3 linked regions of the Homo sapiens genome follow. The protein of the gene in region 1 interacts with the protein of each later gene in a pairwise test. Each region holds a gene or a part of one and is shown in the gene's direction. Other genes may lie near its edges.

Region 1 (3,500 bases):
CCTCTAGAGTGTGGCCTAGCACCAAGGCGGCCCCAGCATTCACTGGTGTATACCCTGGGCCTCAGTTTCCTCACCTGTGGAATGGGCTGCTAGTAGAGGTGAGATGAGGCTGTTGTGAAGAACGGGCCCAGCTCGTAGAAGGCACTCATGGATGCCGTTGCCCGTCCTGTCTCCCAGCATACTCCAGGCATCGCTTCTTTGCATCCCCACCTTGCTGTGCCTGACACACTCGTGGAATTCTTGTTGGTTGGTGGGCAGTGTGGGTGCTGCAGTTTCGTGGCTAGGCTGGCATGGTGCTGCTTTTCTGGCCCTTGGGGACTCCCAGACCTGTGCCAGGTAGATGGCTGGGGAGAGGGGCACTGGAGTGGGGTGGCTGGGGAGAGGGGCACTGGAGTGGGGTGGCTGGAGCTCAGAGTCTGGCTGTTCCCAGCTGCCCACCTGCTGGGACTGGCCTGATGCTTGCAGCCTAGTGACCTCCCAAGGGCTTGAGCTGTCTCTGTCACTATTGCCCACTGGCTAAGGGGCAGTTCTGTCGAGGGCAGGATGCAGGACCTCTTCCTCCTCTCCTGACCATCAGCTGGAAGCATCAGAGGCCTCACTGGAGACTCTGAGGCAAAATGATCCAAGCTGCGGGCTGGTGTGAGGACTTGGATTACCCCCCAGCAGACTTGGGGACCTGTGTCTGGGACCTCAGTGCCAGGCCCAGGACAAGGGGCACACTCATGAAACCTGTATCCAGCCCAAAGCCACAGCAGAGCAGTCAGCCTCCAGGAGGCCCCTGAGGCAGACAGCCTCCTGCTGGGTGGCTGGGCGGGCCTCCCAGTGTGTAAGGGGATGTCAGGGGCCCTGCCACCCTGTTCTTCTGGGGCTTCTAGGCAGGGGCAAGACCAAGGCAAAGGCGTCCAGAGCTGGCCTCACTCAGGCTCCCAGGTGAAGCTGTTAGAAGTGTTGTCCTCTGGGATTTGGTTGGACTTTGATCAGTTTTCCTCAGAAAAAGAGCCATGAATTGCTTTGCTTTGCTCTGTCAAGCCTCCAGCAGAACGCCTCCCTCTGCACAGGCCCAGGCCAGAGACCTGTGTGGAAGCAGGCATGGCAGGCAAATCATGTCACCTCACTGGGCAGTTATAGGTGCCTGCCTGCTTCTCAGAGCTGTGAGCTCAAAGGAAAGGCCAGATGTCAGAATCTGAGAAGCTGGCCACATGAGAGCAGGGAGCACCCTGGCCTGTGTTGGTCTGAACTTTGGTCTCAGAAAATTGTTAAACTCCTCCAGACACACAGACGGCCCGAGTCAGTGACAAGGGATTTCAGTAACATCTTAGCTACCCCTTTGCTATACAGTGGGGAAACTGAGGCCCAGAGAGGAGCAGCACACACCTTCAATTGCTGGGCAGCTCCAGAGCCCTTAAGGAGCCATTTTCTTTGTCATTTAGGGACCCTCAGCTCCTCTGCCATGCAGAAGTAGCTGCAGTTCTGGTACAAACCTGCATTTCCTGCCAAGAAAGCCAACTCAGGTGGGCGGTACCAGGAGGCTAAGGCTGAGTCAGGGAGCAGTCAAGCAGTCATATTTATAACAAGGCCACCACAGGAATCCCACTGCTCCAGGCCGGAAGGGATCCTGGGGGCAACTCCTCCCACCCCCAGCCCGCCTCCCTGTGCTTGAGTCCTCTAATGTGATTTCAACCTCCCCCGCCATCCCCCAATAGCCTAACCCTACTCTGTCAGGTTGAGACTTGGACTAGTGGGTTCAAATTCTGGCGGGGTGCCCTCCTCTGTAGAACGAGGAGAAGGTGGCGTCCTTGCAGAGTGATCGTGAGGACCAAGTGAGTCCTGTGTGCTGTGAAGAGTAAGAAGTACAGTGCTCCACGCCGGGTCCGTGATGGTTGCTCCACAGTCAGCCCCTCCTTTGGGGGCGTGCAGGCAGTTGTCTGTCTCTCCTGCTAGCATGAAGAGGCAGGGGCAGGGTGTGCATGGTTCATGTCTGCGTCCGCAGCATCTAGCACACAACAGGTGCTCTCTGGCTTGCACTCTGTGGCTCATAACCTTTGTTTTCTCCTTTGTGTGAGCTTGTGTGTGTGAAAGAGATGTCCCGTTGTGCGCCATATTTCCTGAGGACAACCTGGCACACGGTGCCCACATGACTGCTGAATGCTGGAAACCTTACCCAGCTCCCACTGTGCAGACAGCAGTGCCCACCTCCGCTCCTCGGTGCCTCCCACCTCCCCACCCAGAATAACGCGGCGGTCCCTGTGCTTGTCCCGCAGACGCCAGCATGTCTCCGGACGCCACCAAGCCGAGCCACTGGTGCAGCGTGGCGTACTGGGAGCACCGGACGCGCGTGGGCCGCCTCTATGCGGTGTACGACCAGGCCGTCAGCATCTTCTACGACCTACCTCAGGGCAGCGGCTTCTGCCTGGGCCAGCTCAACCTGGAGCAGCGCAGCGAGTCGGTGCGGCGAACGCGCAGCAAGATCGGCTTCGGCATCCTGCTCAGCAAGGAGCCCGACGGCGTGTGGGCCTACAACCGCGGCGAGCACCCCATCTTCGTCAACTCCCCGACGCTGGACGCGCCCGGCGGCCGCGCCCTGGTCGTGCGCAAGGTGCCCCCCGGCTACTCCATCAAGGTGTTCGACTTCGAGCGCTCGGGCCTGCAGCACGCGCCCGAGCCCGACGCCGCCGACGGCCCCTACGACCCCAACAGCGTCCGCATCAGCTTCGCCAAGGGCTGGGGGCCCTGCTACTCCCGGCAGTTCATCACCTCCTGCCCCTGCTGGCTGGAGATCCTCCTCAACAACCCCAGATAGTGGCGGCCCCGGCGGGAGGGGCGGGTGGGAGGCCGCGGCCACCGCCACCTGCCGGCCTCGAGAGGGGCCGATGCCCAGAGACACAGCCCCCACGGACAAAACCCCCCAGATATCATCTACCTAGATTTAATATAAAGTTTTATATATTATATGGAAATATATATTATACTTGTAATTATGGAGTCATTTTTACAATGTAATTATTTATGTATGGTGCAATGTGTGTATATGGACAAAACAAGAAAGACGCACTTTGGCTTATAATTCTTTCAATACAGATATATTTTCTTTCTCTTCCTCCTTCCTCTTCCTTACTTTTTATATATATATATAAAGAAAATGATACAGCAGAGCTAGGTGGAAAAGCCTGGGTTTGGTGTATGGTTTTTGAGATATTAATGCCCAGACAAAAAGCTAATACCAGTCACTCGATAATAAAGTATTCGCATTATAGTTTTTTTTAAACTGTCTTCTTTTTACAAAGAGGGGCAGGTAGGGCTTCAGCGGATTTCTGACCCATCATGTACCTTGAAACTTGACCTCAGTTTTCAAGTTTTACTTTTATTGGATAAAGACAGAACAAATTGAAAAGGGAGGAAAGTCACATTTACTCTTAAGTAAACCAGAGAAAGTTCTGTTGTTCCTTCCTGCCCATGGCTATGGGGTGTCCAGTGGATAGGGATGGCGGTGGGGAAAAGAA
Region 2 (3,731 bases), on another chromosome or scaffold:
TGTGTATCTTACTATCAGTAATGGCATCTTAGATTTGAAAAAATGTGGTAGTAGGAGACCTGTAGGATTTAATTCAGTAAGTGTTATCTGAGATTGTTTTAAATGATAGAAGGAGCACAAAGAAACAGAGCAAAGGGTTGGATTTCAGTAATATAACTCAGTAAGTGACCTAGAGGGAAAAGGGGCTTGCATTATTCTATGGGGGACATAAGAGGCAGTGTTTAAAATGCTTGAACACAGTTGAATAAGAAAAGAGTGATCACATCCATATGATGGTATCATTTGAACTTCTAGACATAAGCACATGCCTGATTTACAGTGGATTTATTTTCCAGTCTGTCTGGATGCCCAGGAGGAAAAGCAAGTGCAGGCAGAGAGCTAAGTAACACTGCCTCTAGAAAATAGGAACATTCTTTTAGAGCTAATATCCACATCTGTAGAGCCTTTGGAAACCCTTTATTTCAGTTTTTTATTTTGTTTTGGGTTTTTTGTTTTCTTTTTGGCTTAACACCTTTCTGAGGAGGCTCAGGACAAAAGTATTCTTCTGTTGTCTTTAAAGGTAAACTAGGGTGTCTTGGTGCCCCCCAGAGGACACTCTGAGATTCAACAGCGATAGTCTCATCTTTGAGGCACAGCATTGGTTGGAGCTATAAACTGCTGTGATCTTGTTTGGAGAAAATATGTTTTTTATTATTGATTTGAAATATGTTCTCTTATTTTTATCCTCTCTCCCTACCAGTCAAAATCCTAATTTATCTTTGTTATTCTTAGAAAGTACATTTTGACTATTGATTTCTACTTTGTACCAACTTTCTTTGTTTTAGAAAATAAATTGGGATGATTTAGCCGCCAAAAAAGTGCCTGCACCATTTAAGCCAGTCATTCGAGATGAATTAGATGTGAGTAACTTTGCAGAAGAGTTCACAGAAATGGATCCCACTTATTCTCCCGCAGCCCTGCCCCAGAGTTCTGAGAAGCTGTTTCAGGTAATTTCCCATCCTGTGCACATGCACATTGGCCATATGTCCTTTGAAAGAAAAGATTAAATTTCCCATATTGAAGTAGTTTTGTTGGCATCATAAAAATGGGATTCTCTAATATCCTCTAAATTATTAAATGCAGAAATATTGCACATTGTTAACCGAAGCTTATAGTTTGCTCAATAGCAGATATTGTTTATGCATTTATTTTTGATATAAGGGAAGTTTTAATTTTATACCTGAAATTTTATTTTTGTTCAGATTCTTTTATAGAAAATACAATAATCTTTTATTTTACCTCTATTCATATTTAAAAATTTTTATTTATATAGACAGGGTCTCACTCTGATGCCCAGACTGGAGTGTAGCAGTGCTGTCCTAGCTCACTGCAGCCTCAGACTCCTGGGCTCAAGTGATCCTCTCACCTTAGCCTCTGGGATAGCTGAGACCACAGGTGCAAACCAGCACACCCAGCTAATTTTTCTATTTTTTGCAGAGATAGGATCTTGCTATGTTGCCTAAGCTGGTCTTGAACTCCTGGCCTCAAGTGATCCTCCTGCCTTGGCCTCCCAAAGTGCTGGCATTACAGGCATGAGCCACCACGTCCAGCCAAAAAAATTTTTTTTTTTTAAGAAACAAGGTCTCACTCTGTCACCCAGGCTGGAGTGCAGTGGCATGATCATAGCTCACTGCAGCCTTTTTAACTGCTTGGCTCAGGGGATCCTCTTGCCTCAGCCTCCTGAATAGCTGGGACCACAGGTGCATGCCACCACACCCACCTAATTAAAAAAAAATTGTAGAAACAGGGTCTTACTTTGTTGCCTAAGCTGGTCTTGAACTCTGGCCTCAAGCGATCCTCCTGCCTTGGCCTCCCAAAGTGCTGGGATTCTAGGCATGAGCCACCGTGCCCCTCAACCCCCATATAAAAACATTCTTTAGTTCACAATGTTACCTTATTCTTTACCTTCAGTAATTAATCTTAACTGCTGTTAAAAAAAGATTTAGATTTTATATTTAGAAAAGGGCATTTGTCACACAAGATAAAATATTCTAACTATTAAATGGCATCAGAGCTTTGCTTCTTTGACTTCTATAAGTATACCTTTAGTATGGCTTAATCTGGCCATCCAGACGGTGTCTTTTCTTCTTTGCTTATCACTGTCTAGTATGTGACTGGGCACTTATTGAACATTTTTTTAAATGTTTGTTGATTAGTGAATGTTCTAGCTTGAACGGATTAATCATCCGTCTTTGTACCACTTAGCTCAGAGCATCATTCTGCCATTAGACTTTGTTCCTTTCCAAAACTCAATTTTAAATTTAATTATTCTGAAGATATTAATAAGAATCAAATAATTGCTAAATTAGAAACTAACTTTAGTGAGACTTGCCATTTTTCCAGTTTGAAAAACAATAGCATTTAAAGACCACTTTGTGGCTGGGTCTGGTGGCTCAGGCCTTTAATCCCAGCACTTTTGGAGGCCGAGGTGGGTTGATCACTTGAGGTCAGGGGTTTGAGACCAGTTCGAGACATGGTGAAACCCCGTCAGGCATGGTGGCATGTGCCTATAATCCCAGCTACTTGGGAGGCTGAGGCAGGAGAATGGCTTGAACGCAGGAGGCAGAAGTTGCAGTGAGCCAAGATCGCACCACTGCACTCCAGCCTGGGCAACAGAGCCAGACTCAATCTCAAAAAAAAAAGACCACTTTGTTTAATACCTTGACTGTATCCTTTTTTGAGAAGTTAGTTATGTTTGTAAACAAATTTCATCAGCAAACCAGGAGAATTTCATCTATGAGTCTGATTTTGGGGGTGGAATAGGGAAGAAGTCTTTTTCTACCTTTATTTTTGAATTGGTTTAGTTCTACCAGAAGATGGCATTATATCCTTCTGAACAGCATTTTTCAAATGATTTGAAATAACCTTGCATTTTAGATTGCAAATAAAATAAAATTAGACTCATCTCAACAAATATTTGAGTGTTTTTCTAAGGAAAAAAAGTCATTACAATCTAATCTGTGTTAAACTGGAAAACTGCAAGTTGTTTTTCTTTATCTTTCTTTGTCTTGTTTTTAGGGCTATTCCTTTGTTGCTCCTTCCATCCTATTCAAGCGTAATGCAGCTGTCATAGACCCTCTTCAGTTTCACATGGGAGTTGAACGTCCTGGAGTGACAAATGTTGCCAGGAGTGCAATGATGAAGGTATATAGATGTGGTAACTTATATGACATATTTGTAGGTTTTGTGAGTGTTTAAATACCAACTCTAATTAATGTTCTTAAGTCTAGTAATTCAACTAAAGTGCAATTTTAAAAGTGGGATATAGCAATATTTTCCCTAGAGAATTAACGTCAAGTTGAATGAACTTCTTTTTACAATTATAGAGAATTATGTATCTTAAATAATTATTTAGATGAAAATAGAAGTTACCTATAAAGATGAATTTTAGATTATAAATGTATTCTATTCCTGTTTATTAATATTAATAATTTTATTTTACTCTACAATTTTATTGATCCTTTGTGTATTACTGACATTTTCTGAAGTTAAATGATGTTGATTTCTTGACAGGACTCTCCATTCTATCAACACTATGACCTAGATTTGAAGGACAAACCCCTGGGAGAAGGTAGTTTTTCAATTTGTCGAAAGTGTGTGCATAAAAAAAGTAACCAAGCTTTTGCAGTCAAAATAATCAGCAAAAGGTATGACCATTTTTAATATAATATTCTTTCTTAGGTATTCATGAA
Region 3 (2,962 bases), about 33 Mb from region 1:
TACTAAAAATACAAAAAAATAGCTGGGCGTGGTGGTGGGAGCCTGTGATCCCAGCTACTCGGGAGGCTGAGGCAGGAGAATGGCCTGAACCCGGGAGGCGGAGCTTGTAGAGAGCTGAGATCGCACCACTGCACTCCAGCCTGGGTGACAAAGCGAGATTCTGTCTCAAAAAAAAAAAAAAAAAAAACTATAAACAATGGATGGACAAGAAAATCATGCTGGTGTGCGAAGCTAATGTGTTTCCCTCTCTTCCAGATGCTGGCCAAGAAGAGCTGAAATAGAAAACAGCCTAGAACCTAACACTATTTACTGTAAAATTTTTGCACCAGGATGGAAGGGGATTCTTACCACAATGCAACCACCGTCAATGGCACCCCAGTAAATCACCAGCCTTTGGAACGCCACAGGTTGTGGGAAGTCATCACCATTGCAGCTGTGACTGCTGTGGTAAGCCTGATCACCATTGTGGGCAATGTCTTGGTCATGATCTCCTTCAAAGTCAACAGCCAGCTCAAGACAGTTAACAACTATTACCTGCTCAGCTTAGCCTGTGCAGATCTCATCATTGGAATCTTCTCCATGAACCTCTACACCACCTACATCCTCATGGGACGCTGGGCTCTCGGGAGTCTGGCTTGTGACCTTTGGCTTGCACTGGACTACGTGGCCAGCAACGCTTCTGTCATGAACCTTCTGGTGATCAGTTTTGACCGTTACTTTTCCATCACAAGACCCTTGACATATCGGGCCAAGCGTACTCCGAAAAGGGCTGGCATCATGATTGGCTTGGCCTGGCTGATCTCCTTCATCCTCTGGGCCCCAGCAATCCTCTGCTGGCAGTACTTGGTTGGGAAGCGGACAGTTCCACTGGATGAGTGCCAGATCCAGTTTCTCTCTGAGCCCACCATCACTTTTGGCACTGCCATTGCTGCCTTCTACATCCCTGTTTCTGTCATGACCATCCTCTACTGTCGAATCTACCGGGAAACAGAGAAGCGAACCAAGGACCTGGCTGACCTCCAGGGTTCTGACTCTGTGACCAAAGCTGAGAAGAGAAAGCCAGCTCATAGGGCTCTGTTCAGATCCTGCTTGCGCTGTCCTCGACCCACCCTGGCCCAGCGGGAAAGGAACCAGGCCTCCTGGTCATCCTCCCGCAGGAGCACCTCCACCACTGGGAAGCCATCCCAAGCCACTGGCCCAAGCGCCAATTGGGCCAAAGCTGAGCAGCTCACCACCTGTAGCAGCTACCCTTCCTCAGAGGATGAGGACAAGCCCGCCACTGACCCTGTCCTCCAAGTGGTCTACAAGAGTCAGGGTAAGGAAAGCCCAGGGGAAGAATTCAGTGCTGAAGAGACTGAGGAAACTTTTGTGAAAGCTGAAACTGAAAAAAGTGACTATGACACCCCAAACTACCTTCTGTCTCCAGCAGCTGCTCATAGACCCAAGAGTCAGAAATGTGTGGCCTATAAGTTCCGATTGGTGGTAAAAGCTGACGGGAACCAGGAGACCAACAATGGCTGTCACAAGGTGAAAATCATGCCCTGCCCCTTCCCAGTGGCCAAGGAACCTTCAACGAAAGGCCTCAATCCCAACCCCAGCCATCAAATGACCAAACGAAAGAGAGTGGTCCTAGTCAAAGAGAGGAAAGCAGCCCAGACACTGAGTGCCATTCTCCTGGCCTTCATCATCACATGGACCCCGTATAACATCATGGTCCTGGTTTCTACCTTCTGTGACAAGTGTGTCCCAGTCACCCTGTGGCACTTGGGCTATTGGTTGTGCTATGTCAATAGCACTGTCAACCCCATCTGCTATGCCCTCTGCAACAGAACCTTCAGGAAGACCTTTAAGATGCTGCTTCTCTGCCGATGGAAAAAGAAAAAAGTGGAAGAGAAGTTGTACTGGCAGGGGAACAGCAAGCTACCCTGAAAAGTCAACAACTCCTCTCGAAAGAACAATGACCACAGTCAACATCCTCTGAGGATGAGCAAGCTGATTCTGGTTTGTATATTTTCAAAAAGAAGACATCTCATTTTGAGTCCTTGAAGATTTTTGTAAAGGCTCAAGTTTGGTTGCCAAATGGAAGGGGCCATAGCTGCAGCAATTGCTGACATATTAAATGACTCTTGCCTATGACCAAGGCCATTTGATGCCAGGGGAGTTTGCCAATGAAGTAAAGGGATAGGCTCATGGCCCTTCACAAGAGGAAGCACACTGGGTAACAATGAACAGTGACTCAGGGAACTTATGCCCCTTCTGTAGGAAACAGCAGAGACCAGGTGGAAACCTTTTCCTGTGGAAACCTGTCATAGAATTTTGTGCAATATGTATGTGTCTATGAAGCTGTCTTGTGCCAGTGAGAACCAGCAGGAGAATGTACAACAGTGTCACTTGTTAACGAGACTGATATTCAACAGGCTTCTAAGAATATGTATCTTCATAAACTGATCACTATCTATTATGCAGCTATTATGTGGTCTATACTATACTGTGGTTTGTTTTCCTGTCCCCACATCTGAGTGAAGGTCTTGCTCTTCCCTTTCATATCCAATGTCAATTCCTTGTACTCACTGAACCCATGCTGATCTCCAGGGAACCATCCTTCCTCTCAGAATCCAGAGTCTGGAAGGACTGAAACCTGGTCATACCCAGTCCTTTCAAGGGGCCTCTTTTCTACTAATAAAGATGGATCAAGTCTCCACAGTCAGTTATTTTAGTTTTTGCCAGTGGAAATTTTTTCTTTTATCTAAACAGATATTGTGCATTCTATTTTGTGCCCATTTGAACCCATTTATTTATGCTCTGTTCTTAGGAAGACTAATTGTGTAAGAGCCCTTCACTGGCTGAAGATTTTCTCCAGGCTGTTGAATTAAGGTTCTTATATTGTTTTCAGAGATCTTGCTTTCTAATCTCTTCACAGGGCAAACCTGAGCAAAATGTGGAAAACAGATTTGCTTTTGAA

The links.
Region 2: the proteins of SMAD6 (region 1) and RPS6KA5 interact in a two-hybrid assay, tested with the Homo sapiens proteins (one large-scale study listed by BioGRID and IntAct).
Region 3: the proteins of SMAD6 (region 1) and CHRM5 interact in a two-hybrid assay, tested with the Homo sapiens proteins (one large-scale study listed by BioGRID and IntAct).

What each region holds. Positions count from the first base shown.
Region 1 is NC_000015.10:66,778,736-66,782,235, forward strand, and holds part of SMAD6 (mothers against decapentaplegic homolog 6), read left to right. Parts: intron 1-2,261; coding exon 2,262-2,800; 3' UTR 2,801-3,500. UniProt on the Homo sapiens protein: Transforming growth factor-beta superfamily receptors signaling occurs through the Smad family of intracellular mediators. SMAD6 is an inhibitory Smad (i-Smad) that negatively regulates signaling downstream of type I transforming growth factor-beta.
Region 2 is NC_000014.9:90,900,063-90,903,793, reverse strand, and holds part of RPS6KA5 (ribosomal protein S6 kinase alpha-5), read left to right. Parts: intron 1-824; coding exon 825-986; intron 987-3,057; coding exon 3,058-3,183; intron 3,184-3,552; coding exon 3,553-3,686; intron 3,687-3,731. UniProt on the Homo sapiens protein: Serine/threonine-protein kinase that is required for the mitogen or stress-induced phosphorylation of the transcription factors CREB1 and ATF1 and for the regulation of the transcription factors RELA, STAT3 and ETV1/ER81, and that contributes to gene activation by histone phosphorylation and functions in the regulation of inflammatory genes.
Region 3 is NC_000015.10:34,062,388-34,065,349, forward strand, and holds part of CHRM5 (muscarinic acetylcholine receptor M5), read left to right. Parts: intron 1-255; 5' UTR 256-330; coding exon 331-1,929; 3' UTR 1,930-2,962. UniProt on the Homo sapiens protein: The muscarinic acetylcholine receptor mediates various cellular responses, including inhibition of adenylate cyclase, breakdown of phosphoinositides and modulation of potassium channels through the action of G proteins.